Homo sapiens: one gene and its partners. The protein of the gene in region 1 purifies or fractionates together with the protein of each later gene. This does not show direct contact. Each region holds a gene or a part of one and is shown in the gene's direction. Other genes may lie near its edges.

Region 1 (3,500 bases):
CCAAATATTGACCCAGTTTCTCAGAGACATTTGCATATTTAATAAGATAAGAAATTGAGTTTAGAGATTAAGGTGGGGAGGGCCGTTTTCAACTAGATAAAAATGATTGCTAAAGACTATGAAGAATGCATAAAAATAACCTCTGTGTAGATAAACAGAAGCATCCGATTGCTTGCAGATGAAAAAGTAGGAAAGTGAATAGTGGATTAAATTGCAGGGTTTTGTTTGTTTGTTTATTTGTGTTGTTGTTTTTCAAACACTCTTGCTTTGTTGCCCAGGCTGGAGTGCAGTGACGTGATTTCGGCTCAGTGACGTGATTTCGGCTCACTGAAACCTCTACCTCATGGGTTCAAGTGATTCTCATGCCTCAGCCCCTCAGTAGCTGGAACCACAGGCACGCACACCATGCCCAGCTAATTTTTTTTTTTTTGAGACGGACTCTCACTATGTTGCCCATGCTGGAGTGCAGTGGCACAATCTTTGCAACCTCCGTCCCCCAGGTTCAAGCGATTCTCCTGCCTCAGCCTCCCAAGTTGCTGGGATTACAGGCACCTGCCACCACGCCTGGCTAATTTTTGTATTTTTGGTAGAGATGGGGTTTTGGCATGTTGGCCAGGCTGGTCTTGAACTCCTAACCTCAAGTGATGCGCCCGCCTTAGCCTCCCAAAGTGCTGGGATTACAGGCATGAGCCACCACGCCCGGCCTAATTTTTGTATTTTTATTTATTTATTTATTTATTTTTTGAGACGGAGTCTCGCTCTGTCGCCCAGGCTGGAGTGCAGTGGCGCGATCTCGGCTCACTGCAAGCTCCACCTCTCGGGTTGATGCCATTCTCCTGCCTCAGCCTCCTGAGTAGCTGGGACTATAGGCGCCGGCCGCCACCACGCCCGGCTAATTTTTTTTGCATTTTTTAGTAGAGACGGGGTTTCACCGTGTTAGCCAGGATGGTCTCCATCTCCTGACCTCGTGATCCGCCTGCCTCGGCCTCCCAAAGTGCTGGGATTACAGGCTTGAGCCACAGCACCCGGCCTGTACTTTTAGTAGAGACAAGGTTTCACCATGTTGGCCAGGCTGGTCTCGAACTCCTGGTCTCAAGTGATCTGCCCGACTCAGTCTCCCAAAATGCTGGGATTACAGATGTGGGCCACCAGGCCTGGTCCTAATTGCAGTTGTGTTTGAACATAAGTCTGTGTTGTTTCCTCATTGAACATTGACGTTCTCTGTTGCACTTTGTCAAAAATGAACTCTGAGATCCTCCTTTTTGATATCCTTTTATATTTCTGAATGTATACAGTTGATTATATGGTTAGGCTGAGTTTGAAGACAGGTTTTACTTCTTTTATTTTCAAGTGGAAGAAAACTTGCCATTTTCTAAAACATCTCCTTGTTTCTCCTCATCCTTTTATTAGAGGGAATAGGAGCTGAGGCTAAATCGAAGCACCAGCCTTAGAAAGTGGGTTAATGGCCAGGTGCAGTGGCTCACACCTGTAATTCTAGCAGTTTGGGAGGCCGAAGTGAGCAGATTGCTTGAGCTCAGGAGTTCAAAAGCAACCTGAGCAATGTGGCAAAATCCCATCTACATAAAAAATACAGTAGCTTGAGATCGCTGTGTGTGCTCACTTTGGCTGGGTGCAGTGGCTCAAGCCTGTAATCCCAGCGCTTTGGGAGGCTGAGGCGGGTGGATCACCTGAGGTCAGGGGTTCGAGACCAGCATGGCCAACATGGCGAAACCCCTGTCTACTAAAAATACAAAAATTAGCCGGACGTGGTGGCGTGCGCCTGTAGCCCCAGCAAATCGTGAGGCTGAGGCTGGAGAATCACTTGAACCCAGGAGGCAGAGGTTGCAGTGAACCGAGATCGCGCCACTGCACTCCAGCCTGGGTGACAGAGTTAGATTCCGTCTCAAAAAAAAAAAAAAAATTAGCTGGGCGTGGTGTTGCACACCCATAGTCCCAGCTACTTGGGGAGCTGAGGCAGGAGGATTGTTTGAACCCAGGAGGTCAAGGCTGCAGTGAGTTGAGATCATGCCAGCTGCACTCCAGCCTGGGTGACAAAGCAAGACCCTGTCTCAAAGAAAAAGAAAAAAGGAATTTAGAAAGTGGGTTCATTATACCTCTGAGTCTAGAGCTGAGAAGTGGCTATGTTGCTATCATTGTGAACATGCTGTAACTGTACTTTAATAAGTGTGCATCATGATGCATAGAACTCATTATTAGATACACCACTGGATATTGAATTTCTGCAAGGAGTTTTTAATATTTTTTCTTCTGTTACATAGGCTGGAAGTGGAGCCCTGCCGATAGGCCCTCTTTTGCTGAAACACACCAAGCTTTTGAAACCATGTTCCATGACTCCAGCATTTCTGAAGGTGAGAATCTGTTGGATTTACTGTTGGTGACTAATTCTGGGTAGTGGTGGTGGTGGTGATAATGGTAATTACATTTCAAAAATGATCAACTTTTGTGGAGTTTGAGACTCTGTTTCAACTTTTAACTACAAGGACATTGCATCAGAGTATAGTTTATAATAGTGAGAAATTATGAACAACTTATATATCTAGTGGACTGTAAATTATTACAACCATATAGCTGAATATTTAAAATGATATTCATATATATACTTTTTTTTTTTTGAGATGGAGTCTCACTCTATCACCCAGGCTGGAGTGCAGTGGTGCGATGTCAGCTCACTGCAACCTCCACCTCCCAAGTTCAAGCAATTCTTGTGCCTCAGCCTCCTGAGTAGCTGGGATTGCAGGCACCTGCTACCACACCTGGCTAATTTTTGTTATTTTTAGTAGAGATGGGGTTTCGCCATGTTGGCCAGACTGCTCTCGAACTCTTAACCTTAAGTGATCCACCCACTTCAGCCTCCCAAAGTGCTGGGATTACATGTGTGAGCCACAGCGCCCGGCCTTCTTGGATATATTGACATGGAAAGTAGTTAAAGGTTAACTTTAACTTAGTAAACGAGGATATCCATATGTCCAATAACCATGTTTAACATTACTCATCATAGAGAAATACAAAATAAAACCACACTGAGATACCAATCCACAGCCTACCAAAAAGGCTAAAATTAAAATCAGGCTTGGCAGGCACAGCAGCTCACACCTGCAATCCCAGCACTTTGGGAGGCTGAGGTAGGTGGATCAGTTGGGGTCAGCAGTTGGAGACTAGCGTGGCCAACATGGTGAAACCCCGTCTCTACTAAAAATACAAAAACTAGCCAGGCGTGATGGCAGGCGCCTGTAATCCCAGCTACTTGGGAGGCTGAGGCAGGAGAATCACTTGAACCCGGGAGACGGAAGTTGCAGTGAGCTGAGATCGCACCTCTGCACTTTAGCCTGGGCAACAGAGCAAGACTCCCTGTCAAAAAAAAAAAAAAAAAAAAAAGACTGAGCACTGTGGTTCACACCTGTAATCCCAGCACTTTGGGAGGCTGAGGCGGGTGGATCACAAGTTCCGGAGTTCGAGACCAGCCTGGCCAACATGGTGAA
Region 2 (4,271 bases), on another chromosome or scaffold:
GAGAGAGGGATGGGGGAAGGCAGGTGCCACTAGTGGCCAATGCCATTGTGGTTCTTGGTTTCAGGCCAAGATGCCCTTCCTGGTCCCCAGCTAAGAGTCCTGCTGCTCAGTCCTCTGAATGAGCATCATCAAAGGCCTCTGTGATTTACAGTGTCCATGGTGGCAGCTTCTGCTGGTTCCTGGAAAATGGACAAAAGGATGTGGCCCAAATTAATTGCTGAATTTGGGTCCCTGGGTCCCTGCTGGGCATTGATAGGGGCATGCTGGTGGAAATTGGGGGAGGAATGGGTCAAATTAATCTCCATTCAGCCCCCACTCGGTCTTTCCAATGCCTGCTCAGCAATAAGTGACTCACTGATGGCTTCTGTGATGCCACAGCAGCAGAGGCAGGGGCTGGGGCTACTCATCCAGGAGAGCCACCACAGGTCTGCTAAGTAGGGCTGCCTCAGGCTCCCATGAAGGTTCTCAGGATGTCACCCGTGCTCCACTTGCGCTTGGTGTGGCCTTGTTGCTCCAGTCCAGCAGCAGCAATTGTCCTAGGTGTGGCTGTGTGCACCTGCTCCAAAGCACCTCCCCAGTCAAAACCTGCCAACTTGGGCAGGGTACCAAGCCAGGAGGAACAGCATGGGCACAGAGAGGTGAGGTAGAAGCTAAAATAAGAATAGAAATAGTAGGCCGGGTGTGGTGGCTCACACCTGTAATCTCAGCACTTTGGGAGGCCGAGGTGGGTGGATCACAAGGTCAAGAGATCGAGACCATCCTGGCCAACATGGTGAAACCCCATCTCTACTGAAAATACAAAAATTAGTCAGGTGTGGTGGCATGCACCTGTAGTTCCAGCTACTCAGGAGGCTGAGACAGGAGACTCACTTGAATCCAGGAGCCGGAGGCTGCAGTGAGTCGAGATTGCACTCCAGCCTGGCCACAGAGCAAGACTCTGACTCAAAAAAAAAAAAAAAAAAAAGAATAGAAATAGTAATAATAATGGCAAGCACTTACATAGTGATCCTATGTATTCTAAGCAGTTTACATGTATTACTTTATTTCGTTATCACAATCCCCTACAAAACAGGAGTTTTTTTTGTTGTTGTTTTTGAGACAGGGTCTGGCTGGCTCTGTCGCCCAGGCTGGAGTGCAATGGCCTGATCACAGTTCACTGCAACCTCGACCTCCTGAGCTCAAGCGATCCTCCCTCCTCAGCCTCCTAAGTAGCTGGGATTACAGGCGCACCTGAAAAGTTAAGCAGGCCAAAGCATTTGTGTAAATGGCCCGAGCACACATTTTAAGTGAGAACCATTTGAAGACTCCGAGTTTGCCTGCGAGGATTCCCAAAGGGATCTGGGCAGCTGGTGGCCCCGCCCCCTCTCTTATCGGAGCCCCCCAGCCCCTCCGTTCTCCCCACGCCTAACTTCCCTCCGGTCCCCCCCCAACCGGCCCCACGCCGCTGATTCGCTCGCAGCTTCTCCTCACCACATCCTAACCATGGCTGTGTTTCTGCAGCTGCTACCGCTGCTGCTCTCGAGGGCCCAAGGGAACCCTGGGGGTAAGCGATCCCTGGGAGAGTTGTGATAGACGCAGAGGGGCTGAAGCAAGATAAGGGCCGCCTAGTAGGGTGGGTTGTGTGTGGGAAGATCCAGGATGGCTGGAGTGCAGAACAGAGAAGAGAAAGAGGAGACGGGATGGAGGGTCGTCTTGCCCTGTGGACGTGCCCTAACCACAGCCTCCGGCCTCTCCTAGCTTCTCTGGACGGCCGCCCTGGGGACCGGGTGAATCTCTCCTGCGGAGGAGTCTCTCATCCCATCCGCTGGGTCTGGGCACCCAGCTTCCCGGCCTGCAAGGGCCTGTCCAAAGGACGCCGACCGATCCTGTGGGCCTCTTCGAGCGGGACCCCCACCGTGCCTCCCCTCCAGCCTTTCGTCGGCCGCCTACGCTCCCTGGACTCTGGTATCCGGCGGCTGGAGCTCCTCTTGAGCGCGGGGGACTCGGGCACTTTTTTCTGCAAGGGCCGCCACGAGGACGAGAGCCGTACAGTGCTTCACGTGCTGGGGGACAGGACCTATTGCAAGGCCCCCGGGCCTACCCATGGTAGGTGCAGGCCTGTGCGCACAAGGGTACTTAACTCCGACACATACCCGGAGGAGGGAAGAGGGCCTTGGCTGGGGGTTCTTGAGCGGGACTGCTGGCTGTCCCTCGTCAAACCCCTGACCTCAGCATCCCTCCCCGCCACGCCTTTCCCCCAGGGTCCGTGTATCCCCAGCTCCTGATCCCGCTGCTGGGCGCTGGGTTGGTGCTCGGACTGGGAGCTTTGGGCCTGGTCTGGTGGCTGCACAGGTGAGCAGGAGGGACCCGGCCTCGTTAAATGGGGAGTGACCAGAGGTGGAAGGGGCAGGACCAGAACCTTCGCAAAAGAAAGAGCTAGACCTAGAGCTCTGGTCCTGGCTTGGCGAAGAATGGGAGAGGTCAAAGGTGGGAGCGAGGCCGCTGACTGGTGAGTAGAGCCCCACCAGAGCAGATGAGCTGGAAGTGCAGCAGAGTTAGAGCCTGGGCTGGACTGTCGGTGGGGTAGAGTCTAAGTTGTTTCCGGTCTGAGCCTTCAAGTTGCTGGGCTGTCCTTGGCGTGGCGAGTCCCAGGAGAACCAGTGAGACAAGACTGGTGGTTCTCAAAGACTCATATGTCCCTTACAGGCGCCTGCCCCCGCAACCGATTCGACCACTCCCTAGATTTGGTGAGACTAATTCCACCCCATTTTCTTTCTCCTACATGCCCACTCCCCACCCCTCAATTCCTGAGTCTGAGCCCTTGCTGGGAGCAGACACGTTGGTCACCTTCTCTCCATCCTTCAGCTCTGTCCCCCCCACATAGCTCCACTTGTGAAAACCGAGCCCCAGAGGCCAGTAAAGGAGGAAGAGCCCAAGATTCCAGGGGACCTGGACCAGGAACCGGTAAGGGCATGGGGATGGGAAGGGGATAGCCAGAATCTCTGAGGAAAATGGACCAAAAAAAAAAAGGCCTGAACCCCAAGGAAGACTGTGGAGACCATCTTGTCTTCCTCCCCTTCCTCCTCCAGAGCCTGCTCTATGCGGATCTGGACCATCTAGCCCTCAGCAGGCCCCGCCGGCTGTCCACAGCGGACCCTGCTGATGCCTCCACCATCTATGCAGTTGTAGTTTGAAGGGAAGCCCTTACTCCAAACCTCCCAAGCTAGGGGATCCCAGCTCCCCATAATCCCTCTCCCCTCCTTGGTTCCTCACCTGGAAGAGGAAGGCACCATGGTATAGAAATAAGTGCTAGACTGGGAGTTGGGAGACCTGGGTTCCAGGCTGTCTCTGCCACTGGTCTTACTTCTAAACTTACTCCCATCTCTCCTATAACCTCCATGTCTCCCTCACCACCAGTGTCCTCTCTATACCCAATCAAGCCCTAGCTCCTTTTTTTTTTTTTTTTGAGACGGAGTCTCGCTCTGTTGCCCAGGCTGGAGTGCAGTGACACCATCTCCCTCACTGCAAGCTCCGCCTGCCGGGTTCACACCATTCTCCTGCCTCAGGCTCCTGAGTAGCTGGGACTACAGGCGCCCGCCACCACGCCCAGCTAATTTTTTGTATTTTTAGTAGAGACGGGGTTTCACTGTGTTAGCCAGGATGGTCTTGATCTGCTAACCTCGTGATCCACCCGCCCCGGCCTCCCAAAGTGCTAGGATTACAGGTGTGAGCCACCGCGCCCGGCCTGATTCTTTAAGCTGTTTTTCTTTGTTGCTGGTGTTTTCTTTTTGGACTCCTCTTCCTTGCTCCATATCCCTACAGTATTTCCCACCATTCTAGGTTTGTCCCTTTCTCTTCTTCTGGGACACTCTCATCAACAGTCAGTCCTCAGCCCCCTCCTCTGCAAATGACACTCAGAACTCTCTCTGGCTCAGATCTCAGATTTGGGATTAACAAACTTCCACTTAGACATTCTGCCTGACTGACCTCAGGCATTTCGCACTCTGAATGTCAAACCCAACTCATTGTCATCTCTGAAGCTGCTCACTTAATTCTCCTCTGTATTCTCTTTAACAACCCAGTTGCCCAACCCAGAAACTGGGAGTCACGCAGACCTCCTTTCTCTCTTACTCCCACACAATGAGCCATGAAGTCCAGTCTTTCTATCTTAACATCACTGTCAAACCCACACTGTATTCCATGCCCAGCGCTGCCACGTGAATGTACTCTGCTCACTTCCTTCCTGGATTACCCATAGCCCCACCTCATCCTCCTACCCTTGCTTTCCTCCC
Region 3 (3,500 bases), on another chromosome or scaffold:
ATGCACTTGGGAGTCTGAGTGGGGGTATCCCTTGAGACCAGGAGTTTGGGGTTGCAGAGAGCTATGATGGTGCCACTGCACTCCAGCCTTGGTGACAGAGCAAGAGCTAATCTCTAAAAAAAAGAAAAGAAAAAAAAGAGTTGGGATATAGTGGCTCACTCCTGTAAACCCAGCACTTTGGGAGGCCAAGGCGAGCAGATCACTTGAAGTCAGGAGTTTGAGACCAGCCTGGCCAACATGATGAAACCCCATCTCTACTAAAAATACAAAAATTAGCTGGGCATGGTGGTGTGCGCCTGTAATTCCAGCTACTCAGGAGGCTGAGGCAGGAGAATCACTTGAACCCAGGAGGCAGAGGTTGCAGTGAGCTGAGATTGCATCACTGCACTCCATCCTGGACCACAGAGCAAGACTCTGTCTCAAGAACAACAACAACAAAAAAACAAAAGACAGAAAGAAATACTTTTCTGGATGAGTTCAGACATTATAGAGCGAGATGCTTCAGTTCAGGGATTGTGAGCCTTAAGAGGCCCAGAAGTCACTTGGGGGCTGTGTCAAGGAGATAATTTGCTACTTTCAGCCCCGACCTTTGTGTTCTGCTGAAATGCCTGGTGGTGTAGGAGCTTTAACATGTTCTAGAAATTTGGATGTTTAAAATTTACATACACATATATATAACTTTAAACAAACCATGTGGGTCATTATATCAGGCCATGTTGATAGGCAAAATTCAGCCTTTGGGTGGCCAAAGTCTCCTTTGGTTGAGAAAAGGAATCAGTAGGCAGAACCATCAACAGAAAATATGAGAAAGAATGCTCAAGTCTAAAGTGAACTTAAACAGTTCCACTGTAGTGTAAAACACCACTCAATTTGGTAAGTTGAAGGGATTTTATTTTTCAGACATTGCCTAACTTAGAAGAGAAAGATAAACCTATCTTGGAATAAAGGTTAGATGAAAACAAAGACTTAGGAACCATGGTAAGCTATAGCACTCACTCTCTAAAGCTTCTGATTCATACGCTCTATTGCTAGATTCGTCTCATCATGCTACGGATAGCTCAACATTACAGCCATGACCCACATGGGCGAGAGTTCGTTTTTGTGATTCTTTGTCCTTTATTTTAGCAAGAGAGTCCTGGAGATCACTGAGTCTAATGAACGAACCCCAGGGAATGAAAGTGAAGCATTAACCATTACTGAAATGACTGTAGGGGCTCTGCAAGGTTGTTGTGGGTGGTACTGACAGGGCTAAATAGGACTGACTCCGTTCCTCTTTGACATTCTGATTTAATGTTTCTGATTACAACAGCAAATCTTGATTTGGGGCTTGTATATCTTCAACACCTCTTTTACACTTGATGTTCTTCCTTTTTTAAAAAAAAAAAAGTCAAAGATGTTATCGTTGTGCTTATTTTTATTGGTTTCCTTCTATTTGTGGTCAATGACAGTAGTTTTCCATTTACCATTTTTCACAGTTTCCTTTAAATTAATGTAAGTAAAAACAATGGGTCCATTTAAAGGAAAGGAATGAAGCCAGTAGAAGTTAAGAGGAAGGTGGAAAGAGTATAACTTGTAAAGGTTGTAAAGGTTGTCTCTGAATAACTGAGCTTGGGAAACTTACCTAGGTTATAGGGCAGATGGGGTAGAGGGTGGAAGAAAAGGATGTCCAATGATAGGATAAGGTCATGTACCTTCTCAGAGGCAAACTAGGACAAGAATTCAGGCCTCCTGATGCTCAGCTCCCTGAACCCCAAACACTAGTCTTTGGGCCTGCCATATTGCTGACAGTTATGCTATTTTGTTCAACATTAAGTAGGCCTTAGACTAGTGGTTCTCACATTTGAGTGTATCACAATCACCTATGATCTTTGTTAAAACTCACATGGCTGGCCGGGCATGGTGGCTCACGCCTGTAATCCCAGCACTTTGGGAGGCCGAGGCGGGTGGATCGCCTGAGGTCAGGAGTTTGAGACCAGCCTGACCAACATGGTGAAACCCCGTTTCTACTAAAAATACAAAAAATTAGCTGGGCATGATAGCGGGCACCTGTAATCCCAGCTACTCGGGAGGCTGAGGCAGGAGAATTGCTTGAACCCGGAAAGCAGAGGTTGCGGTGAGCTGAGATCGCACCACTGCACTCCAGCCTGGGCAACAAGAACAAGACTCTGTCTCAAGAAAACAAACAAACAAAAACAAACAAACTTGCATGGCTGGGCCCCGCTCTCAGAATTTTTGATCTAGTAGGTCTGGGGTGCAGCATAATAATGTGCATTTCTAGCAAGTTTGCAGGTGACGTTGATGCTTCTGGTCCAAGGACCTCACTTGGAAAGCCCCCGCTTTAGACTGACAGCACTTCTCAGTGGAGGCCCGGGGCACCGTTGGCCACCGGGTGGACAGTTCTCCATTGCGTGGTGAACCGTTCAGCATCCCAGAACCCCTGCCCGCTCACTGCCTATAGAAGTCCCTAGTCAATGCGATAACCAAAACTATCTCCACACATTTCCAGCACCCCATGTTAAGAATCTTAGTACATTTTTCACCTCCCTACGGTTAATATTTTCACTTAAGATGCTCATAATCTGATGCCTACCTCATTACTTCTCGTTATTTCTAAACTCTTCTTTTTTTTTTTGAGACGAAGTCTTGCTCTGTCACCCAGGTGGGAGTGCAGTGGCGTGATCTCAGCTCATTGCAATCTCCGCCTCACAGGTTCGGGCGATTCTCCTGCCTCAGCCTCCTGAGTAGCTGGGACTACAGGCGCCTGCCACCACACCCGGCTAATTTTTTGTATTTTTGGCAGAGACAGGGAGTCACCATGTTGGCAAGGCACATCTCAAATTCCTGACCTCAAGTGACCCTCCTGCCTCAGCCTCCCAAAGTGCTGGGATTACAGGTGTGAGTCACCGTGCCCAGCTCCCTTTTTTATTTTATTTTTTTGAGACAGTGTTTTGCTCTGTTGCTGAGGCTAGAGTGCAGTGGTGAGATCATGGCTCACTGCAGCCTCCACCACCCAGGTTCAATCGATTCTCCCACCTCAGCCTCCCAAGTAGCTGGGACTACAGGCCCGCACCGCCATACCTGGCTAATTTTTGTTTTGTTTTGTTTTTGGTAGAGACAGAGTTTCGTATGTTGCCAAGGCTAGTCTCAAACTCCTAGGGTTAAGCGATCCTCCTGCCTCGGCCTCCCAAAGTGCTGGGATTACAGGTGTGGGTCACTGCACTCAACCTGCTTCATTCTTATACTCCCTGCTTCCAAGAGTCCATGTGAACTGACATTTCAATCTTTCCTTCACTTTCTATGACAAAGACAATCATTGTTTTCATTTTCCAAATATGCAATTCTAATAATGAAGGTGCTTCTTCGAAGTATGCCTTCCTCTTCCTTGTCTAACTTCCCCTCCAACCCTACTAGGAGACATAACCCCCTTCTGAAAAAATCAGTTTTATGCCCTATCTGTCTGAATGCTTCCGGGCTATGAATTTTGAGATAATAGGTAAATG
Region 4 (4,081 bases), on another chromosome or scaffold:
ATTCCTACTACAATTTACCGTCAGTATTACTTCATAAATGGAAAGTCATTTTACCATTAAAGATGTAGGTAGGACCATCTCAGAAGAAAAGACAACTCTTTACACCAAATACATTTGGTTTTGTGAAAAACTAGTATCCTAATTTTTGCCGCTTATGGAGATCAATGAGAGATTTTCCCCACCCCAATGTTGACATGTACTACTCGACGCTGTCATATTATTGAGGCATAAAAGATGTTCTAATAAAATGGAAGTGACTTAAGAGAAAGTTTTATGCCTCCTCCCAACTCTGAACAGATGCTGAGAATATACCAAACAAGTTCACACAGGAGTAGAGATTTAGAGAGGCCTTCCCACCTTCAAGAATTTTATAATACGTTAATGAGCTGAGTCTTATTTTCAAGGATGGCTTTGTTAAAGCAGAAGAAGGGTAACTATGCTTATGAAAGGCAGTTTTGCATGCCTGTTTGTCAAAAAATACAGTACAATTTATTTTAAAATTGATTAATTGGTGTAGAACTTGCAATGGTCACACAATCAGGATGGTCAGCTTCCATTCAGGGATCAAATTTGTCCAGGCCTTTCAAAATGGAACACGTTGCTTTTAGTATGGCATTGGTTCTGTTTGTAGTGCTGATTTTTCTTTCATGGTAATTAAAAAAAAATCTTACTTTCTTAAAAGCCTGCACCCAAGCTAGTGAGCTTTTCTGCAGAGGATTGAGCATCCAAACCATGCTTTATTTTGGTGGATTCTTAGAGTTTTCTGGCTGGGTCCTTTTTGAGGGGTAGCTGTGAGCTGTGAGACAATTTCAGCAAGATGTAGGGACAAGGATCGCATTCGAGGTGGCTTAAAAGGAAACACGTTTGTGAGAGTTGCCTCACTGTCTCACCTGCTAGAAGAAATTGGGAGATTTCAGGGCTTGTTTTCGGTCCTGGCGTGGTGCAGAGGTGGAGGGGCGCCAGCAGGTGTGTGGTATGCAGGACGCAGAGCCAGGAGAACCTGGGGCAGGTGTCTGGAGCCGGGGGTGCAGTTCCTACTTTTAGACGCATGGTGGCGCTAGGGTCTCCTCCGGCCCTGCTAGCAATCTCTAAGGCACCTCCGCCGCCACCTGCAGTCTCAACCAAACCTCTGGGTGGGCAGCGCGGGATGTGACGGGCCGAGCGTCCAATCGACTGACAGATTTCCGTCCACACTACTGCTCTAGCCAATGGGAGCCGAGGAGAGGCGCGGAGGAGGCGGGCCCCGCGGCAAGCCTGGCAGAGGCGCGAGGCCCTCCTCCCGCCTCTCCGCCTACTCCAGCCTCCGCCGCCTCAGCTTCCCGAGCGAGCCCTGCGGCCGCCGGAGCAGCTCCCGCGGCGGAGCAGGAGCCGGATGGTCAGAGGAGCCCGGCAGCCCCAGCAGCCGCGGAGTCGCCTGGCCCCCAGGTGCGGGGGCTGGGTGGAGGCCGGGGTTGGGGATGGGGTGGGGGCCAGGGAGCGGGCCCAGGGGCAGCGGCTCGGGGCGGTGGAGCATTCGGGGCGCAGAGACCGGAGGGGCGGGGGGTGCAGGCTGGGGGGACCTTGGGGGCGCCTGCAGGCGGCGGCGCGGGCTGGGCGCGATCGCCTCCTCGAGGCCAGGTGAGAGGGGCGTGTGAGGGAAGGGGCGCCGAGGGGTGAGGCTGGCGGCGCGGGGCCGGGAGGGGCAAGGCGGGCGCGCCCCCGGAGGGGCCGTGGAATGCGGGGGTCGCCGGGCCCGGAGAGGCGGGGCGTGGAGGGGGCAGTGCACGGTCGGGAACGGGTGGGCACAGGAAAGGGGAGGCTAGGGGGGCTTGCGGGGGTGACGAGGCAGACAATGAGTAGGTGGAGGTGGGTGATTTTGGGGAGCTGGGCTGTGACGAGCAGGGGTCGAGGATGGGGTGAGGGACCAGGAAGGTTTGAGCTCAGGGGGAATTGGGGGAACGGTGAGTCCCAGGAATGCTAGGTCTTGGTAAATAGGGGAAACAGGGCATGAGGCGTTTGTAAGGTCAGATCTGGGCTTGGCGAGCCTGTGGTCCCAGAGGGTGGTCTATTTAGTTCTTGACTGGCACGGTAGCGCCGGGAGATGTTTTCTTGTATGTTACTTTTAGTTACCGTCTTATTTGTTTGGTCTGCAGACTGACTGGCACAGTGGAGAAACCGCCTCGAAAACGGAGAAGCAGGTAAGGCAGTGCCTTCCTATTTTGCTTCATGTTTTTCTTTTTGCTTGGCTGCACCTGTGCCGTACTGCATAATTGTATACTGTCAGTAGATGAAGTTTCTTATTTATCCCCCTTTTAAAAGAATATAACCACATGCATGATTTTTCTTTTGAGGACTTCAAATTACTACCTCTACAGTCGATTTTTTTTTTCTTGGTATCTAAGATAATGTGGGAAATCTTGAGAAATCCTACTTTTTTACTTTTTGATGTTGTGTAAGGATCTCAGCTATTTTTTTTTTTAACCTTAGCCATAATTTCATTTTCTCCAGCATCTCTGTTTAAAAAGCTCATCTTGGCTGGGGTGGCTCATGCCTTCAATCCCAGCTCTTTGGGAGGCTGAGGCAGGAGGATCATTTGAGCCTGGGAGTTCAAGACCAGTCTGGGCAACAGAGCAAGACTCCGTCTCTACAAAAAATTGAAAAACTAGCCGGTCCCATAAATATATACACCTACTATGTACCCACAAAAACAAAAAATTAAAAAAACAAAAACCAACTAGCTGAGCGGGTGTTGTGGACCTGTAGTCCCAGCTTCTCAAGAGGCTGAGGTGGGAGGATTGCTTGAGCCCAGGAAGTCAAGGCTGCAGTGATGCAGTGAGCCGTGATCATGCCACTGCACTCCAGTGTGGGGAACACAGCAAGACCCTGCCTCAAAAAATAAACTAATTTTATTGAGCATCTACTATGTGCCAAGTACTGTGTACGAATGCTCTATGTGTATCTTCTCCTGTAATCCTCAAAGAACCCTAAGAGAATATGTAGTGTCACTATTTTACAGAAGAGGGAACTGCGACACAGAGAGGCCAAATATTTACCCAAAATCATGCATCTAGTAAAAGATAAAACCAGGATTTGAATCCAGACAGTCTGACTCCAGAGCTTAAGCTCTTAACTGTTATACCATAATGCTGCTAATAAATATGCAATTGAAAGTAGGTTTTCTTATTGCTTTATCTTTTGTCGTTGGACACTGTGTAGTTAACTCGAATGGTTGAACCTTAGGAAAATAGAAGCAAAGAGTTTAAGTAGTCCACAAACAAAGTGAATTAGTCCTTGAGTAATGGAGATGAAGATATATTTATCACATAAACATTTTTGACTGCATTCCATGTGAGAGGTACTACATAGCAATTCTGTGTAGTCATTAGATGATTCCTTTTTCACAGATGTTGGCATTGACCTAGAGAAAGTAAGCTACTGTAGTTATGTGACCAGTAGGACTACTTTCATAGTTAATATCTGGCAAGTTAATGATGTTAATACACAGAAAACCTCAATAGTAAATAGACACGAAATGCTGATGGTGGAAGTGCCAACAGAGTTTCCTTGTCACACTTTAGGCCTGTACTGTCCAATCCAGTAACCATATGCAGGGTGAGCACTCAAAATGCATCTAGCATGACTGAGGAACTAAATTTTTAATTTTATTTAATTGTAATTAAATTAACTTGAGAAACTGCTACTTGATCAGCTATTGGAAAACGTTCAAGTATGTTTTGAACAACTTGGGTATGTGAGTCTGTATTTTTCATCCGTCATTTTATGAAATCTAAGTATATATCAAATATTTCCAATGAGAATTTAGGGTCTGAAATGAGATAAGTATAAAATACATGCTAGATTTCAAGTTAGTACAAAAATTGAATAAATAAAATTTCTCAGTAACTTTTTATATTGATGACATAGTGAGACAATATTTTAGGTATATTGGAGTAAATACTTTTTTTTTTTTTTGAGACAGGGTCTGGCTCTGTCATCCAGGCTGTAGTGCAGTGGTGCAATCTCAGCATACTGCAACCTCCACCTCCTGGGCTCAAGCCACCCAGCCAATTCAGCCTCTGGAGTAGCTGGGACTACAAGCGCC
Region 5 (3,500 bases), about 86 Mb from region 1:
GAGGGAAAAGGCAGGCATCGGGGACATAGATCCAGTCCAGCCCCTCAGTCACACAGCAGCCCTGACCCGGCTCCCAGCTTCTAATCTTATGCACGTAAACCAACATATTTTATTCTACTCACTGGTTTTTTTTTTTGGCGGGGGGGTCCATGAGGAAATGTCATAAACTGTCATTTCTATACTGCAAAACTTAGGGAGGAAAATACAGGACTCTGTGTGGAATGTAAATGACAGCTGTGTGCTGCCTGGAGGCTCCGGCACATGCTAGTCAGCATCTGGCTGGGGACCCAGTAGCCAGGCACAAATGCCGGCTCCACATTGGGCAACTTTTCAACCATGGGCAAGCGACTTGACCTTCCTGGGCCTCACCTTCTTCATCTAGAAAGATGGAGCTTGTGAGGTGTACATGATTTAATATATGCAAAGTGCTCAGAACAGTGCAGGCACAGAGGAGGTGCTAGGGAAGTGCTCATGATAATTATTATCTGGAGGAGAGTAGAATGTCAGACTCAGACCCAGCACAGTGGCTCACAGCTGTAATCCCAGCACTTTGGGAGGCTAAGGTGGGCAGATTGCCTGAGCTTCAGAGTTCAAGACCAGCTTGGGCAACATGGCACAACCCTGTCTCTACAAAAAATATGAAAATTAATATAAGGAGCTCAAACAACTCTATAGGAAAAACTCTAATAATCTGATTTTTAAAATGGGCAAAAGATTTGCTCTTTTGAGAAATGAGTATTTCTCAAAAGAAGACATACAAATGGGCTGGGCATGGTGGCTCACGCCTGTAATCCCAACAATTTGGGAGGCCGAGGCAGGTGGATTACCTGAGTTCAGGAGTTCAAGACCAACCTGGCCAACATGGCAAAACCCCATCTCTACTAAAAATGCAAAAATTAACCAGGTGTGGTGGTGCACGCCTGTAGTCCCAGCTACTAGGGAGGCTAAGGCAGGAGAATTGCTTGAACCCAGGAGGCAGTGAGCCGAGATCATGCCACTGCAGTGGCAAACAGGCATATGAAAAGGTGTTCAACATGATTGGTCATCAGAGAAATGCAAATCAAAACTATAATGGATATCACCTTACCCCAGTTAAAAAGGCCTATATCCAAAAGACAGGTAATAACAAATGCTGGTGAGGATTGTGGGGAAAAGGGAACCCTCCTACACTGTTGAGGGGAATGTAAATTAGTACAACCACTATGGAGAACAGTTTCGAGGTTCCTCAGAAAACTAAAAATTGAGCTACTATATGATCCAGCAATCCCACTGCTGGGTATATACCCAGAAGAGTGGAAATCAGTATATCAAAGAGATACCTGCACCAATGTTTGTTGCAGCACTGTTTACAATAGCTAAGATTTGGAAGCAGCCTAAGTGTCCATCAACAGCTGAATAGATAAGGGAAATGTGTATATACACAGTGGAGTACTATTCAGCCATAAAAACAATGAGATCCTGTTATTTGCAACCACGTGGATGGAATTGGAGATCATTATGTTAAGTGAAATAAGCCAGACACAGAAAGACAAATGTTCTCACTTATTTGTGGGATCAAAAAGTCAAAACAACTGAATTCTTGGACACAGAGAGTAGAAGGATGGTTAGCAGAGCCTGGGAAGGGTAGTAGTGGGTGGGGAGTAGGGGATGGGAGGGAGGTGGGGATGGTTAATGGGTACAAAAAATTTAGAAAGAATGAATAAGACTTATTTGATAACACAATAGGGTGACTGTAGTCAAAACAATTATATATTTTAAAATAAAGAGTGTAATTGGACTGTTTGTAACTCAAAGGATAAATGCTAGAGGGCATGGATACCCCATTCTCCATGATACACTTATTTCACATTGCATGCCTGTATCAAAACATCTCATGTACCCCATAAATATATACACCTACTATGTATGCACAAAATTTTTTAAATATAAAAATTAGCTGGGCATGGTGGTGTGTGCCTGTGGTCCCAGCTACTCGAGAGGCTGAGGTGGGAGGATTGCTTGAGCCTGGGAGGTTGAAGCTGCAGTGAGCCATGACCATGCCACTTCACTCCAGCCTGGGCAACAGAGCGAGAGCCTGTCTCAAAACAAACAAAAAAACTCAGGGCAATTGCAAGGAGGGAGGCAAGACCTGATATTTAGAAATCCTCCTTTTCATAGTAATAGGATTGGACTTGAGATGCCTTACAGTGTTAGAAGGGGTACCTTTTCTTCTGTTTCCTTTGGGAAGGATAGGCTGCTGAATGGTCGAAGCAGGGAATTAATGTCATGCACAGAGTGGGAGTGTATTCGGCAGGATAACAGAACCACTGCTGCAGGGAAGGCCTCCTAGTTGGCCCTGAATGATCCTGGTTTAAAAACTTTTTAAGATAAGAAATGAAAAAAAGACTAAGTCTCTTAAGTCAACAAGTCAGGCCTAATAGAGCCACTTTTCTGTTTGCCCTTTGGAATGCAGATCCTCCTAGAACTTGTCACCACTTTGTACACGCAGCACGCCCAGAAATGTTTAAGTGGGAGGAGGGGAAAAGATGGCTCATGGCCTGCTGCCCTGCCCCAGTGTCCTTCAGTGGCTCCCTTATGCAGCTCTGGCCAGGTGCCACCTGCCCTGACGTCGGGCCTGCTAGTTGGCTGGCTGGTGGCCTGCCCTGGGCGAAGGTGTGTGCTCACAGGCAGGTTGCATTCCACACCCTGCCGTTCTGGCCCCTGGAGTCCAGCCGCAGTGGTCACTGCTTAAATATCACTTCTCGGGAGATATTTCCTTTTGTAATTTGCCCTCGGTCTTGTCTTATCTTCGAAAGGTTGCTGGAATTTCTCTGTTCCTTGGAGTTTGGGGGTTTTTTGATTTGTTTTTTCTTTGGTGCTTGTAAAGGTAGGAAAGAACTTCGTGATTTCTGTAACATAACAATGTTTTATGCTTATGGGAAGGCCAATTAAAGTTCATAACAACTTGGCTGGTGCAGTGCCTCTGTCTCTAGCTAGGGAGATTCTGGTGCTTGGTGCTGGAGAAATTCCCAGTCTGAATTGGAAAGGGACAGAAGGAATAACAGCGAGTGTGTTGAAAGTTACCTTCCACCTTTTCCTTGTGTGGTTACACAGTGTGCCTCCCAACTGCTGCTTGGTGACCGTGCCGGTGCCTTTTCCCAGCTCAGCAGGAGGAGGCTGTGTGGGGGTCCCCCGAGAGCAGCCAGGAGGTTGGGGATGGCAGCCTCCCCAGGCAGTCCTGCAGGTTATTTGGGGGATGCTGAGATTTGCACCAAAATGGAAGTTTCCCCACAGCTTCCTTCCTAACTGCAACACTATGGAGCATGTGGAAAATGCATGTTAGTTAGGCAAGCCATTCCCTCTGGGCCTGTAAGTAATTTTAGGCTCTGTTAAAAGTACACATTCCAGTTCATCAGATTTTCCCGGGAGTATCGTAAAACTTTTACCCTACTCTGTTCAACAGGATGGAACAGCCCAGAGGAGGCATCCTAGGACTCAGCTGCTGCATTGGTCATGGGGAC
Region 6 (3,500 bases), about 19 Mb from region 1:
AGACATGAGGGACTCAGCAAAGAACAAGGCCCTGCTACCCCAGATTTCCCCAGCATGAGGCAAATCTAAGGCATTCCCCCGTGCCATTTGCTTAACTCCTCTGGGAACTTGCAGGACTGGAGTTCCCCAGCAGCACCTCTCAGTTAACATTTTCTCACGCTTCTCTCCTGCACAGATGGGGAAAGCCAGCACACAGGACAGTAAACCTCCTGGGACTTCAAGCTATGAAATTGTGATCTAGGCTGCTGGGCTGAATTCTCCCTCTGGAAACTGAGTTACAACCACCAATACTGGCAGGTTCCCTGGATCCAGATCTTCTCTGCCCAACTCTTACTGGGAGATTGCAAACTGCCACATCTCAGCCTGTAAGCAAAGCAGGAAACCTTCTGCTGGGCATAGCTTGTGCCTAAATGGACAAATGGATGCATACCCTTCCTGAAATGACTCCCTTCTGAATGAATGACAAAGCAGGTTACCTAGTATAGTTTTCCCAAACTTCTTCCCATCATAGCACATGTAGAAAATAATATTTTTATGGCACACTGGGATAAACAAGCAAGATTGCTCACTTCTGGAAGCTGCATATGACTAGAGGCCTCTTGTGACTGGAGGTAACAACCCTGCCCAGTAACTGTGGGAGAAGGGGATCAATATTTTGCACACCTGTAATAGGCCATGGCACACCAGCCAAGATGCTCTGCTCACAGTCAGTATGTGTGAAGATCCCTGGTGCGTGGCCTTCACCACGCATCTTGAGCAAATTAGGAAAATGTACCCTTCGCTTGAGGCAGATGCAGCCCTTCCCCCGAGTGCATGGCTTGGAGAGCAGAATGTGGGCTGCATATAAGCACACTCATCCCTTTGTCTGGGAATCTTTGTGCAGGGCATAACAGGCTTAGTAAGTCCAAACACAGATGACAGTGCTGTGTGGGTCTCTGTCAGAGTTGTGGCTCTCAGCCATGTAGACACACTCTCCAAATGGAGTGTTGGAAAATGTTCTTTCTGCAGGGTCTAGAGACTGCTGGGACACTTTTCTTGGAGTGCTACTTCAGAAGCCTTATAGGATTTTCTTTCTGGCCAAGATTTCCTTCTGTATCACTCCAAGCAGCCTCAGCAGAAGAAGCAGCCATGCCCAGTATTCCCACTCTCCAAAAGGAACTGACCAGCTTATATTTCTCACACTTCTGGGGAACTGGGTATAATCCAACCATCAAAATAGAAGACCTTGCAAGAAGCAGAGTCATTCTCCAGAAGGAACTTGGGAGATGATGGTGCAGATGATGAAACTGGGTTCATCCCAGTTCCAAAGACTCAGAGAACTAGAGTTTAAGCTGAGGCAGAGTGCCGCCACCCTGGCATGCCCCACAAACAGATCACCAGCCAGCTTACACAGGCATTAACTCTCCTCAATGAGGAAGAATCATTCACAACTGAGCAAGACATTCATATGATCATTTAAGGAAGTGTTTCCCTTATGTGTTAGCAAGTATAATCGGCTAACTCCTAAATCCCAATGAATAGTCCTAGGCTGGACAGCAATGGGCTGCAATTAGGCAGATAAAGACATCAGTCCCAGTAAATGAATCCATAGACTCATCTAGCACCAACTACCATTAGCACTATGTTAGGAGCTGCAAGGCCCCAAAGTAGAAGATGTGCATAATGTCTGCTCTTGTGTAGCTCAGGAGACAATTCCAGCACAGACACTACAGTTAACGCTGAACTGCAGCTGCAAGTAATAGCATGAACAGTCAGAAAAATACCTTATGAGGGGGCAGGGCTGAAGCTGGGCCTTGAAGGATGGATGAAATTTGGATAGAGAATGAGGAAGACAGAGGGCCTCCAAGTGAGAGAAGCATGAAAAATGAGCAGGGGCCTGGATCAGTGGGGTGTATTCAGAGCACCTCTCCAGATGCACCATGCATGCTCACAGTCCCTTGCCTATGTGTGGCAGAGTGTCCCAGCCAGATGTGTGCCCTCACCCCATGTCCATTTACATGTCCTTCAATGCCCACCTCAAAAGGTACCTCTTCTGTAAAGCTTTCCCTGGTATCAGGAATCAAAATTAATCAGGGATCTTTTCACACTGCTGTTTTTTCCTCTTTGGTCCTTCTATCACTAAAACTCATCTCATTCAGCCTTACAGCATAACTAATTATTTGTTTTCCTCACTACATTGTACATGTGGGAATTACAGATAAACGGAAGCCGGCTGGGGTGGTGGCTCACGCCTGTAATCCCAACACTTTGGGAGGCCAAGGCAGGCGGATCACCTGAGGTCAGGAGTTCGAGATTAGTCTGGCCAACATGGTGAAACCCCATCTCTACTAAAAATACGAAATTAGCCAGGTGTGGTGGCACACATCTGTAGTCCCAGCTACTCTGGAGGCTGAGACAGGAGAATCGCTTGAACCCAGGAAGTGGAGGTTGCAGTGAGCTGAGATCACACCACTGCACTCCAGCCTGGGAGAGACAGAGTGAGACTCCATCTCGAAAAAAAAAAAAAGATAGAAGCCAATAAGCATGGTGCAATCAAATTCTGGCAAGCATTAAATATCAGGATGCAGCTGGGCACGGTGGCTCACGCCTGTAATCCCAGCACTTTGGGAGGCCAAGGTGGGCGGATCACTTGAGGTCAGGAATTTGAGAGGATCCTGGCCAGCATGGCAAAACCCCATCTGTACTTAAAATACAAAAAAATTAGCTGGGCGTGGTGGTGCACACCTGTAATCCCAGCTACTTGGGAGGCTGAGGTGGGAGAATTGCTTGAACCTGGGAGGTGGAGGTTGCAGTGAGCTGAGATCCTGCCACTGCACTCCAGGCTGGGCAACAGAGTGAGACCATGTCTCAAAAAATAAAAATAAAATAAAATAATATCAGGATGCATACATCAGAGGCTGTTCCTAGTGTAAAGGCACTTTGGAGGGAGAAGACTTTCAGAGTTAGGCAGACCAACTAAGAGGTCAGCTGAAGCACCTAACCAGTTGTAAGGAGGTGAAAGACAGCACCCCAAGAAGAGACGTGCAGGAAGGAGGAAAGAGGCTTGGTCATAAAGGATGGAGGAATTCCAAAGTGACACTGAACAGGCTGCGTTTATCCTAAAATAAAACCACTCCTCACTCTGTGGATGCGTTGAAGACTCATTCCCAAACATCTTTATTCTCTAACTTGCCCTCTTCCTCTTCCTAATATGCTCACTCAAGTAAAATTACTAGTGTCCTAATGCCCCTATGCATATTGTCAAAAATAAAAATCAGAAGCAGGTTAGATCTGTTAGGTCTTCCAGAAGAGCAAACCTGGGATGAAGCCAGAGCCCAGGAATTCTGAAGGTAGCCTTTGGACTCAGGACACCCTACTCTTGTCTCTCCTCTCAGTTTCTCTGCTATGAATCTCCTGATTCATGAACACGTTATCTGTTCACCCTTCTCTCTAGGTCTTAGTTCTTAGATTTTCCTTCTGTAAAATGCATGTGATCTTATTTTCCCCTCCACAACTTTCCA
Region 7 (4,161 bases), on another chromosome or scaffold:
CTGCGGACCCCACGATAAATCAAACAGCCCTAGCTGCTGATCCCCACAGAGCCACTTTGATCGCTCCATCACTTCAGCCAAGGTCAGCAAACGACAGCCTGTAGGCCACACACACACACTAGAATAATTCATGACACATGAACATTACATGAAATTCTGATTTCTTTGTCCATAAATGGTTTCTTTGGGACACAGCCACACTATATTGTCTGCTTTCATGCTGCCACAGCTGAGTTAAGCAGCTGGGGCAGCGATAGCAAAGCCAAAACCACTTCCTACCGGGACCTTTAAGAAAGTGTGCCCTTAAATACTCTGATAGCCCCTAGTGAATTAAATTGACCACCTGACATCATGCCCCTGTTGACCCTTCAGAGACTCAGGCACACATCCAGGCCCCAATGCTACCTTTCAACCCCTCAACGACCTCAAACTGGTGTCCACTGACGCCCCTTCCAGTGACACCCCTCTTAATTCTTCCGACCTCGGCGAGAAGGGGGCTAACCTAGGCCTGTCCTTGAAGAGACCCAGGTGCCAGTCCATTCTCTCCAGCCTCCCCTCGGTGATCCCGGAAGCTGGAACGGCGGCTCTCCTCTGACCTCTGCACACTTTCTGAAGATGGGAGTGTCAGGGCAGGCAAAAAAGAGAAGCTCTTCGTTCCCCAGAACCCACTTCCAGTGCCTCAGTTCTGTTTCCCAGCAGGCTTGTGCAGGTCGAGATGCTCACACAGGACTGACCCTGGTGCCCCAGCGCATCCGGGAAAAAGGAACCACAAATTCCTCGGGAAATACACAGAGAAGATCCCGCTGCCACTTGGCCTTTCCCACGGCGTGGCTGCCCCTCCCCGGCCTCCCTTGGGCCCGGCTGGAGCGCACAGCGCGGGACGCCCCCGACCCGGGGTCCTCTGGCACGAGGGGCAGCCTGATCTCGGCGACCGTCTCCACCCAAGGCTGCTGCCCGCCCCAGCTCGGACTCCGCGCGGCCTGGCTCCCAGGGGACGGGCGGGAGGGCCCGGCGAGACCGCTCGGCCGTCCACCCAGAGCCGGCACCCGGAGGTCGGCCCCTGGGCGCGGATCCCGATCTGAGGGCGGGTCCCAAGCGGCAGGGAGCGAACCTGGGACCGTGCCACCCCCCCACCAGTGGGCGCGGCAGCCGAAAAAAAGGGGAAGCGCCGGCGCTGGACTCTGCTCAGGGCAGCCCGCGAGGACCTAGGGCTCCGGCCACAGCGGCCCGAGCGCCCGGGGTGGGGCTACGCGGGCTCAGAACACGGTGGCTGGGGCGCCCTGCCCGCCGCTGCGCGCTTCCATTGGCTGCCGAGGCAAGGGCGGGGACTCAGTCACCGGCCTCCGCCTCCCGCGGCGTCCACACTCGCCGCGCGCGCGGCGGCCGGGCTGGACCTTGCTGGCCCGCGGCGCCATGAGCCGCAGCCTGGACTCGGCGCGGAGCTTCCTGGAGCGGCTGGAAGCGCGGGGCGGCCGGGAGGGGGCAGTCCTCGCCGGCGAGTTCAGCGTGAGTGGCACACGGGGTCCGCGAGCGGCGCGCCCCGGCCCTGGCCCTGCGTACGCCTGTCCTCCGCGCACGGCGGGCTCTGCCTTTCTGTCTCGGTGTCCCCGGTGTCTCCCCGCCTCGGGGGGTCTCTCCGTGTTTCTCTCCCCAGCACTTCTCTGTCGCTCTTGCTGTCTCCGTCTTCACTCTCTGCCCCCCGGCCCCGGAGCGCGACGTCCACGGCCAGGCCGGGACGGACCGTGCACACCCTCGTTCCCGGTGTCCTCGTCGCGCTCCCGGAACAACCTGGCTGCGGGCGGGACAGGTGGGGCGGGCGCCGCAGGGGAGGGCGGGCGGCCCTGCTGCGCTGGACAGCCCCGGCCCCGCCGCTTCTGGCGACCTGACTGTCCCCTGTGACCACAGGAAGGAAGGGGCTGCAGCAGGGCGAAGAGGAACACGGAGGCTGTGGCGTGGTGAGGGTGTGAACGCCGGGCTCGAATCCGCGTCCGGGCCCGAATCCGCTTCCCGTCCCGAATCCGCGTCCCGGCCATCCGCGTGTGGTCCAGGCGGTCTACCTGGCCCCTCTGACCTCGGCTTCTCCCTTGGTGAAATGGGGACATGAATGACCAAACTGGTCTAAGGATTAAATGATGTGGGTGAAAAGCACTTAGTACATATTGGGCGCACACTTCGTAGGGGCGTTCGTCACTGCCTATAAAGATTCTAAACGTGGGCCAGGTGCGGTGGCTCACACCTGTAATCCCAGCACTTTGGGAGGCCGAGGTGGGAGGATCGCTTGAGCTCAGGAGTTCGAGACCAGCCTGGGCAACACAGCGAAACCCCGTCTCTACTAAAAATACAAAAATCAACTGGGCATGGGCGCATGCCTGTAATCCCAGCTACTAGGGAGCAGAGACAGGGGACTCGCTTGAACCTGGGAGGCAGAGGTTGCAGTGAGCTGAGATGGTTCCACTGCACAGCTGAGATGGTGCCACTGCACTCCAGCCTGGGCCACAGAGTGAGATCCCATCTCAAACAAAACAAAACCAAACAAAAAATCTAAACGTTACAATACAGGTAGTGCAAGCCCAGCATTAGGAAGGCTCACGCAGAATGCTAGGCACTGTACATTACAGTTGATGACGTGTTTAAAGTGTAATCGCTTATGTACCAGACATAGAAACATACCATACAAACGCATAAACTGATATATGGTGACATGTATCAAGTTTAGAAATATGACAAATATATAAAAGTATTATAAATGACCGTTTATACAATAAACATTGCATAACTGCATAAAACAATACAACAAATGAATATAACAAAGATTATAATTTATAAAATGACCAAAGTTATTTGATAAATTCATAAGTAGATATAAAATATGTAACAGATGGCCGGGCACGGTGGCTCACGCCTATAATCCCAGCACTTTGGGAGGCCGAGGCGGGCGGATCACGAGGTCAGGAGATCCACACCATCCTGGCTAACACGGTGAAACCCCGTCTCTACTAAACACACAAAAAATTAGCTGGGCGTGGTGGCGGGCGCCTGTAGTCCCAGCTACTCGGGTGGCTGAGGCAGGAGAATGGCGTGAACCCGGGAGGCGGAGCTTGCAGTGAGCCGAGATCGCGCCACTGCAGTCCAGCCTGGGCAACAGAGCGAGACTCCATCTCAAAAAAAAAAAAAAAAAAAGTAACAGATAATTATAAACCTAAGTAATTTACACACATGTAGAAACATTGTATATAAGAAACTAAGAAATGCATAATAAATGTAAAATATATAATTATACAATATAAGAATGTGTGTAACAAATGTAAACATAATACCCATGTGATATATGACATCATGCGACTGGGTGGGTTCTGAACCGTGTACAGTGCGGAGGGCCTCACATGCGGAAGGCTGGGTGGCGAGGGCACCCCTGCTCCCCAAGCCTGCCTCCCGCATGTGCAGGAATCACTGCGCTCTTCTAGGTGTTCCCACTACACAAGGGCATCATGAGGGCTTAAATGACCCAATGGACACAAGTAAAGCACTTAGAATAGTGGCTGGCACACAGTGGTGGCATGGGTGTTACTTATTATCATTGAGATTACGAATACCTGACGATGATGGTAATACACGATTCACTAATTATTATTATAATCTCCCAGTAACACAGTGCCTATAGTATCTTGTACATAATATGTTATCCATTATAATGCCTATGCATTCATTGTACATTGTCTTATATGTTTAGCTACATAGCCCATAATATATTTCATTACAGTTATTGCTTACAAGACAATGTCACAGATTGAGTGTGCAGGGGGTGGGTGCCGAGAGGGTCTGAGTTCAACCCTCACCGTGTGACTTCCTGGTTGGGACCTTCCACAAGTCGCTGAACCACGTGGTGCATAAACTTTCCCGCCTGCACAATGGGGACGTCAATAATAGTACCCACGTCGTAGGAACCTGTGATGATTACATGCCCTTAGCACAGAGAGTGGCACAGAGAAGGTGCCCTGGGTCACTATTTCGGTATCATTATTATTAGGCAGGCCCAGTGCCATCAGGGTCTGCACTCACCTCCCCAGGCCACTGGCTTTGTATCCTGCAAGCGTGCCTAGGTGGCCTGGGACTCTGACCTGGCTCCTCTCCTGTCTTCTCCCCTCCCTGACCCACTCATAA

Evidence for each region.
Region 2: the proteins of ABL2 (region 1) and MPIG6B purify together in Homo sapiens (pull-down; one study listed by IntAct). This does not show direct contact.
Region 3: the proteins of ABL2 (region 1) and CASS4 purify together in Homo sapiens (pull-down; one study listed by IntAct). This does not show direct contact.
Region 4: the proteins of ABL2 (region 1) and SCAI purify together in Homo sapiens (affinity purification with mass spectrometry, with the first as the bait; one large-scale study listed by BioGRID). This does not show direct contact.
Region 5: the proteins of ABL2 (region 1) and BCAR3 purify together in Homo sapiens (affinity purification with mass spectrometry, with the first as the bait; one large-scale study listed by BioGRID). This does not show direct contact.
Region 6: the proteins of ABL2 (region 1) and CD84 purify together in Homo sapiens (pull-down; one study listed by IntAct). This does not show direct contact.
Region 7: the proteins of ABL2 (region 1) and PTPN18 purify together in Homo sapiens (pull-down; one study listed by IntAct). This does not show direct contact.

Annotation. Positions count from the first base shown.
Region 1 is NC_000001.11:179,111,178-179,114,677, reverse strand, and holds part of ABL2 (tyrosine-protein kinase ABL2), read left to right. Parts: intron 1-2,279; coding exon 2,280-2,369; intron 2,370-3,500. UniProt on the Homo sapiens protein: Non-receptor tyrosine-protein kinase that plays an ABL1-overlapping role in key processes linked to cell growth and survival such as cytoskeleton remodeling in response to extracellular stimuli, cell motility and adhesion and receptor endocytosis.
Region 2 is NC_000006.12:31,721,902-31,726,172, forward strand, and holds the start of MPIG6B (megakaryocyte and platelet inhibitory receptor G6b isoform G6b-B precursor), read left to right. Parts: upstream 1-1,471; 5' UTR 1,472-1,482; coding exon 1,483-1,543; intron 1,544-1,737; coding exon 1,738-2,085; intron 2,086-2,240; coding exon 2,241-2,331; intron 2,332-2,685; coding exon 2,686-2,726; intron 2,727-2,844; coding exon of another isoform or gene 2,845-2,863; coding exon 2,864-2,943; coding exon of another isoform or gene 2,944-2,972; exon of another isoform or gene 2,973-3,068; coding exon 3,069-3,173; 3' UTR 3,174-4,271. UniProt on the Homo sapiens protein: Inhibitory receptor that acts as a critical regulator of hematopoietic lineage differentiation, megakaryocyte function and platelet production. Inhibits platelet aggregation and activation by agonists such as ADP and collagen-related peptide.
Region 3 is NC_000020.11:56,453,760-56,457,259, forward strand, and holds part of CASS4 (cas scaffolding protein family member 4), read left to right. Parts: intron 1-3,500. UniProt on the Homo sapiens protein: Docking protein that plays a role in tyrosine kinase-based signaling related to cell adhesion and cell spreading. Regulates PTK2/FAK1 activity, focal adhesion integrity, and cell spreading.
Region 4 is NC_000009.12:125,140,729-125,144,809, reverse strand, and holds the start of SCAI (protein SCAI), read left to right. Parts: upstream 1-1,281; 5' UTR 1,282-1,372; coding exon 1,373-1,425; intron 1,426-2,132; coding exon 2,133-2,177; intron 2,178-4,081. UniProt on the Homo sapiens protein: Tumor suppressor which functions to suppress MRTFA-induced SRF transcriptional activity. May function in the RHOA-DIAPH1 signal transduction pathway and regulate cell migration through transcriptional regulation of ITGB1.
Region 5 is NC_000001.11:93,584,338-93,587,837, reverse strand, and holds part of BCAR3 (breast cancer anti-estrogen resistance protein 3), read left to right. Parts: intron 1-2,675; exon of another isoform or gene 2,676-2,866; intron 2,867-3,500. UniProt on the Homo sapiens protein: Acts as an adapter protein downstream of several growth factor receptors to promote cell proliferation, migration, and redistribution of actin fibers.
Region 6 is NC_000001.11:160,544,997-160,548,496, reverse strand, and holds part of CD84 (SLAM family member 5 isoform 2 precursor), read left to right. Parts: intron 1-175; coding exon 176-241; 3' UTR 242-3,500. UniProt on the Homo sapiens protein: Self-ligand receptor of the signaling lymphocytic activation molecule (SLAM) family.
Region 7 is NC_000002.12:130,354,695-130,358,855, forward strand, and holds the start of PTPN18 (tyrosine-protein phosphatase non-receptor type 18), read left to right. Parts: upstream 1-1,361; 5' UTR 1,362-1,413; coding exon 1,414-1,506; intron 1,507-4,161. UniProt on the Homo sapiens protein: Differentially dephosphorylate autophosphorylated tyrosine kinases which are known to be overexpressed in tumor tissues.